Regions from separate parts of the Homo sapiens genome. Here region 2 is linked to region 1. A link means that fine-mapping ties the variant in region 1 to the expression of a gene that starts in the linked region. Tissue or cell type: monocytes after R848. Region 1 holds a variant in brackets; the other region holds the start of a gene. All regions are shown on one strand. Distances are from middle to middle.

Region 1 (3,009 bases):
TTAATCTATCTTGAGTTACATTTTTTATATGCTGAGAGGTAAGAGTTGTTTTTTTCTTCTGCATGTGACTAACCATATAGTCCATTATTTATCAGTACCATTTATCAGATGGAAAGTTATTTCCCCTTTATTTCTGTTGACTTTGTCAAAAATAAGTTGGTTGTAGGAGTGTAGCTTTATTTCAAGTCTCTCTCTTCTGTTCCATTGGTCTACATGTTTATTTTTGTCCGAGAACCATGCTATATTGGTTACTGCCACTTGTAGTACAGTTTGAAGTCAGGTAAAGTGAGGCTTCCAGGTTTATTCATTTTGTTTAAAGATGCCTTGGCTATTTGGGCTCTTTTATTCAATATGAATTTAAAACCATTGTTTTTAATTCTACAAAAAATTGCATTGATAGTTTGATAGAAAGAGCATTTAATTTACAAGTTGCTTTAGGCATCATGGACATTTTAATTATATTGATTCTTCAAATCTATGAGCATGGAATGTTTTCCATTTGTATGTGTTGTCCCTGATATCTTTCAGCAGTGTTTTGTAGTTCTTTTTTTTTTTTTTTTTTTTTTATTGATCATTCTTGGGTGTTTCTCGCAGAGGGGGATTTGGCAGGGTCATAGGACAATAGTGGAGGGAAGGTCAGCAGATAAGTGAACAAAGGTCTCTGGTTTTCCTAGGCAGAGGACCCTGCGGCCTTCCGCAGTGTTTGTGTCCCTGGGTACTTGAGATTAGGGAGTGGTGATGACTCTTAACGAGCATGCTGCCTTCAAACATCTGTTTAACAAAGCACATCTTGCACCACCCTTAATCCATTCAACCCTGAGTGGACACAGCACATGTTTCAGAGAGCACAGGGTTGGGGGTAAGGTCACAGATCAACAGGATCCCAAGGCAGAAGAATTTTTCTTAGTACAGAACAAAATGAAAAGTCTCCCATGTCTACCTCTTTCTACACAGACACGGCAACCATCCGATTTCTCAATCTTTTCCCCACCTTTCCCCCCTTTCTATTCCACAAAACCACCATTGTCATCATGGCCCGTTCTCAATGAGCTGTTGAGTACACCTCCCAGACAGGGTGGTGGCCAGGCAGAGGGGCTCCTCACTTCCCAGTAGGGGCGGCCGGGCAGAGGCGCCCCTCACCTCCCGGACGGGACGGGGCGCCTGGCCGGGCGGGGGGCTGACCCCCCTGCCTCCCTCCCGGACGGGGCGGCTGACCGGGC[T/G]GGGGGCTGACCTCCCCGCCTCCCTCCTGGATGGGGCGGCTGGCCGGGTGGGGGCTGACCCCCCCCCCACCTCCTTCCCGGACGGGGCGGCTGGCCGGGCAGAGGGGCTCCTCTCTTCCCAGTAGGGGCGGCTGGGCAGAGGCGCCCCTCACCTCCCGGACGGGGCGTCTGGCTGGGCGGGGGGCTGACCCCCCCACCTCCCTCCCGGACAGGGCGGCTGGCCGGGCGGGGGGCTGACCCCCCCACCTCCTTCCCGGACGGGGCGGCTGGCTGGGCAGAGGGGCTCCTCTCTTCCCAGTAGGGGCGGCTGGGCAGAGGCGCCCCTCACCTCCCGGACGGGGCGTCTGGCTGGGCGGGGGGCTGACCCCCCCACCTCCCTCCCGGACGGGGCGGCTGGCCGGGCGGGGGGCTGACCTCCCCACCTCCCTCCCGGACGGGGTGGCTGGCCGGGCAGAGGGGCTCCTCACTTCCCAGTAGGGGCATCCGGGCAGAGGCGCCCCTCACCTCCCGGACGGGGCGGCTGGCCGGGCGGGGGCTGACCCCCCCACCTCACCTCCTGGACGGGGCGGCTGGCCAGGCGGGGGGCTGACCCCCCCACCTCCCTCCCGGACGGGCGGCTGGCCGGGCGGGGGGATGACCCCCCCCACCTCCCTCCCGGATGGGACGGCTGGCCGGGCGGGGGGCTGACCCCCACCTCCCTCCCAGACGGGGTGGCTGCCGGGCGGAGACGCTCCTCACTTCCCAGACGGAGTGGCTGCCGGGCGGAGGGGCTCCTCACTTCTCAGACGGGGCGGTTGCCAGGCAGAGGGTCTCCTCACTTCTCAGATGGGGCGGCCGGGCAGAGACGCTCCTCACATCCCACACGGGGCAGCAGGGCAGAGGCGCTCCCCACATCTCAGACGATGGGCGGCCTGGCAGAGACGCTCCTCACTTCCTAGATGGGATGGCGGCCGGGCAGAGACGCTCCTCACTTTCCAGACTGGGCAGCCAGGCAGAGAGGCTCCTCACATCCCAGACGATGGGCGGCCAGGCAGAGACGCTCCTCACTTCCCAGACGGGGTGGCGGCCGGGCAGAGGCTGCAATCTTGGCACTTTGGGGGGCCAAGGCAGGCAGCTGGGAGGTGGAGGTTGTAGCGAGCCGAGATCACGCCACTGCACTCCAGCCTGGTCACCATTGAGCACTGAGTGAACGCGACTCCGTCTGCCATCCTGGCACCTTGGGAGGCCGAGGCTGGCGGATCACTCGCGGTTTGGAGCTGGAGACCAGCCCGGCCAACACAGCGAAACCCTGTCTCCACCAAAAAAATACGAAAACCAGTCAGGTGTGGCAGTGCGCGCCTGCAATCGCAGGCACTCGGCAGGCTGAGGCAGGAGAGTCAGGCAGGGAGGTTGCAGTGAGCCGAGATGGCAGCAGTACAGTCCAGCTTTGGCTCGGCATCAGAGGGAGACCGTGGAAAGAGAGGGAGAGGGAGGCCGTGGGGAGAGGGAGACCGTGGGGAGAGGGAGAGGGAGAGAGAATTACAGTTTTTAAAAAGTAGACTGTAGTTCTCCTTCTAAAGATATTTTACCTCCTTGAGTCAATCCATTCCTAGGTATATTATTTTTTGTTTGTGGCTATTTTAAATAGAGCTCTGTTCTTGATTTTGTTCTCTGCTTAAATGTTATTCAAGTGTTGAATGTTATTCAAGGTGTATAGAAATGCCAGTCATTTGTGTACATTGATTTGGTATCCTGACACTTTGCTGAATCATTTTTTAGGCTTGGGAGTCTTTGGGAGAAATCTTTAACG
Region 2 (2,709 bases), 38 kb after region 1:
ACAATCTTAACTTCTCTAAGGGTTTGCTTTTCAAAGGAAGAGTACCCCAGGAGACTCCTCTCAGCCTCAGGGCATCCACCTGCTCCCTTGAGAGGCTACACTCCAACTTCAGGCTGTCCTGTCTCCCATTCCCAGATATGCGAAGTTTCATTCCAGGCCAGGAGCTGAAATTTACTAGACATTGTAGCATACACAGCCACAGTGGATATCTTGATTTATCCCCAGACAGTACTGAAACCCAGAACCAGGGAAAAAACTGAAGGGTGGCTGAGGACACATTACCTTATAAAGTTTCCAAAGGGAAACCCTGACCCAAAAATATTCTGATAAGGTTTCTGTGGCTAGAGGCAATAAAAGGAAAGGAGGCACAGAACATTTTTTACAATACAGTGTCAGGGGATTATTCTTTGCTTTCTTCTCTTGGGAAATCTTTACAAACAGAAAACAAATCTTTTTTAAAATGCCAGCCAATGCTTTGTCAAAAAATGATTAATTAAAATATGGTACCTAAAATGTACACTAAAGTGTACATTAAAGGACAAATAGTTGATAATGTGAATTAGGGAGGGGAAATTGGCATTTGGGAATGTCAGAAGGAACTGGAAATTTAGTATTTTACTGCAAGCCAGAGTTAGGCTGGAGGAATGGGAAATGGGGAGAAGTCTTGAGACCCTGCTTGAGACAGAAGTGAAAAATGCAGAGGAAAATCAGTGCCCTGTGGAGTGTGAAAATAATTAAGTGGCAGGCAATTAGACTGAGGTGGCTCCAGTCCTAGGGTTGCTACTTGCAAAAAAATCTAACTCGAATGATTTTTTTCTAAAGTATTACATTGGGGGAAAATAAAATTCAGGCTTAACCAACTATAAACTGCCAATTAACCTCTCATTACATGACCAGGGAATTTCCACCTTGATCGTACAAATTAAGAAACTACATAACTTTACCTAACCAATTATTGAATTTGCTTTCCTTTATCATGCACTTTATAAAAGTGTTTTCTTCAAGCCCCTTCCATAAACCACAAACTACAAAACATAGCTTGGTGCTCTACAATTCTTGAATTACTCTTTAATTAAATTCTTTAATATTTCTGCGGAGACTTCCACAAATTTTTAATAGAAAAAAAGGGGGACTGGGAACCCCGCAGACCAAAGCTCTTCCCATTCATGAACTCTGCATCCTGAGTCAGTATTCTCCCCTGACGACCGTCCAGTGGTCCCTGCACAATCGGGGAGAGCTGCGGCAGTGGGGGCAGAGCTGCCCACAGAGGACTCCAGAACAAGGCACAGTCACTGCGCAGGGAGGAGACAGGATGCCCGGGGTCCGAGCTGTCAGCCCGGCCGCCATCCTATGGCTGAAGGGGACTGAGGGCCGAGCTGCGCCAAGGAGAACTCGGGGCCGCGGATTTTGGAGCCAGCTGCGGGGAGGCCAGAGTCCCGCCACAGCCACTTCCCACCAGTTCCAACCAGCCCCGCCCCCTCTCTCGGGATGTCGGACCCGGCACTCTCACCATTTCTAGGCTTCCAGTGGGTCCTGGCGTCTTAGCTGTGGATCTCCCAATACCTGCAGGTAACGAGGCCACAGAAGCTGGGCCTCTAGGAGCAGAAGACACAGAGCAGTGAAGACTACACCAGAAGCTCCGGCTGCCGCCAGAGACAAAGGCCCCACCAAACCCGGAAGCCGTCCTGTCTGCTCCAGCTGAGTGCCTGATTGGACGGGTCCCAGCCCAGCGTCCCTGATTGGATAATGTTTAGGGCCCCACCCTCTCAGGCCTTGATTGACAGAAGACGTGCTCAGATGCTGGGCTGAATGTAGAGTGAACCCTAAGCCTTTTCAGGCAGAGCTTCCTCCCTGAGCTGACCCAGGCCCTCCCCAGACGGCATTTGCCTTGTAAGGCAACCGTCTGAAATAAAATGTGAGCCATGTGTGAATTCTAAATTTTCTAGTAGTTAAGAAGAAAGAAGAAACAGGTGAAATTCATTCTAACCATTTAATAACCCAATATATCCAAAATATTATTTTAGTATAGGAGCAATATGTAATTATTAATGTAGTGTATATATTCTTGGAACTAAATCTTTAAATCTAACCCTGTATTTTACCTTTCTAGCACATCGCAGTTCAGACCAGCCATATTCCAGCTATCCTGTAGCCACACATGGCCAATAGCCACCACATTGAAGTGCAGCTCTGATTTCATACTTCCTCTCTCTCTCTCCTCAAACCTCCTGTGCTTCCTTCCCTCCCTCCCTTCTGCTAAGCTGATGCTCACTTCTCCAACGTTACTAGAAGCCCTCAGAGTGAATGTTCTTATCTTCCCACCATCCACCGACTGTGTCTCTGTTCCTTCCACTGTCACTGTGTAATAATTGCCCTTCTGCGGCTGGGCATGGTGGCTCATGCCTGTAATCCCAGCACTTTGGGAGGCTGAGGTGGGAGGACTGCTTGAAGCCAGGAGCTTGAGACCAGCCTGGGCAACATAGTGAGACTCCATCTCTACAAAAAAGTTTAAAAATTAGCCATGGGCTGGGTACGGTGGCTCACGCCTGTAATCTCAGCACTTTGGGAGGCTGAGGTGGGCGGATCACCTGAGGTCAGGAGTTCAAGACCAGCCTGGCCAACATGGTGAAACCCTGTCTCTATAAAAATACAAAAATTAGCTGGGCCTGGTGGCGTGCACCTGTAATTCCAGCTACTTGGGAGGCTGAG

Direction of the effects. Positions count from the first base shown, and alleles are read on the strand shown. Sizes are in standard deviations (SD) of each study's normalised expression.
For the expression in monocytes after R848 of the gene that starts at base 1,657 in region 2, allele G in region 1 goes with a higher level than allele T (moderate effect, 0.58 SD a copy in Quach 2016).

The links.
Region 2: it holds the start of ERV3-1, and the variant in region 1 is fine-mapped to the expression of ERV3-1 in monocytes after R848 (Quach 2016, PIP 0.92).

Annotation. Positions count from the first base shown.
Region 1 is chr7:64,966,387-64,969,395 of GRCh38, forward strand. No RefSeq gene overlaps it. Among named protein-coding and RNA genes, the nearest start is that of ZNF117, 23 kb to the right of the region's middle. RefSeq lists enhancers at 1,327-2,070, 2,071-2,814 and a silencer at 2,912-3,009. The variant T/G (reference allele first, on the strand shown) is at 1,221.
Region 2 is chr7:65,005,031-65,007,739 of GRCh38, forward strand. ERV3-1 (endogenous retrovirus group 3 member 1, envelope) reads right to left here and starts at 1,657. Exons shown (of 2, transcript NM_001007253.4): 1 at 1,511-1,657. It overlaps ERV3-1-ZNF117 (ERV3-1-ZNF117 readthrough), which reads right to left and starts at 1,716. Exons shown (of 4, transcript NM_001348050.2): 1 at 1,511-1,716. RefSeq lists an enhancer at 1,588-1,647 and a silencer at 1,748-1,917.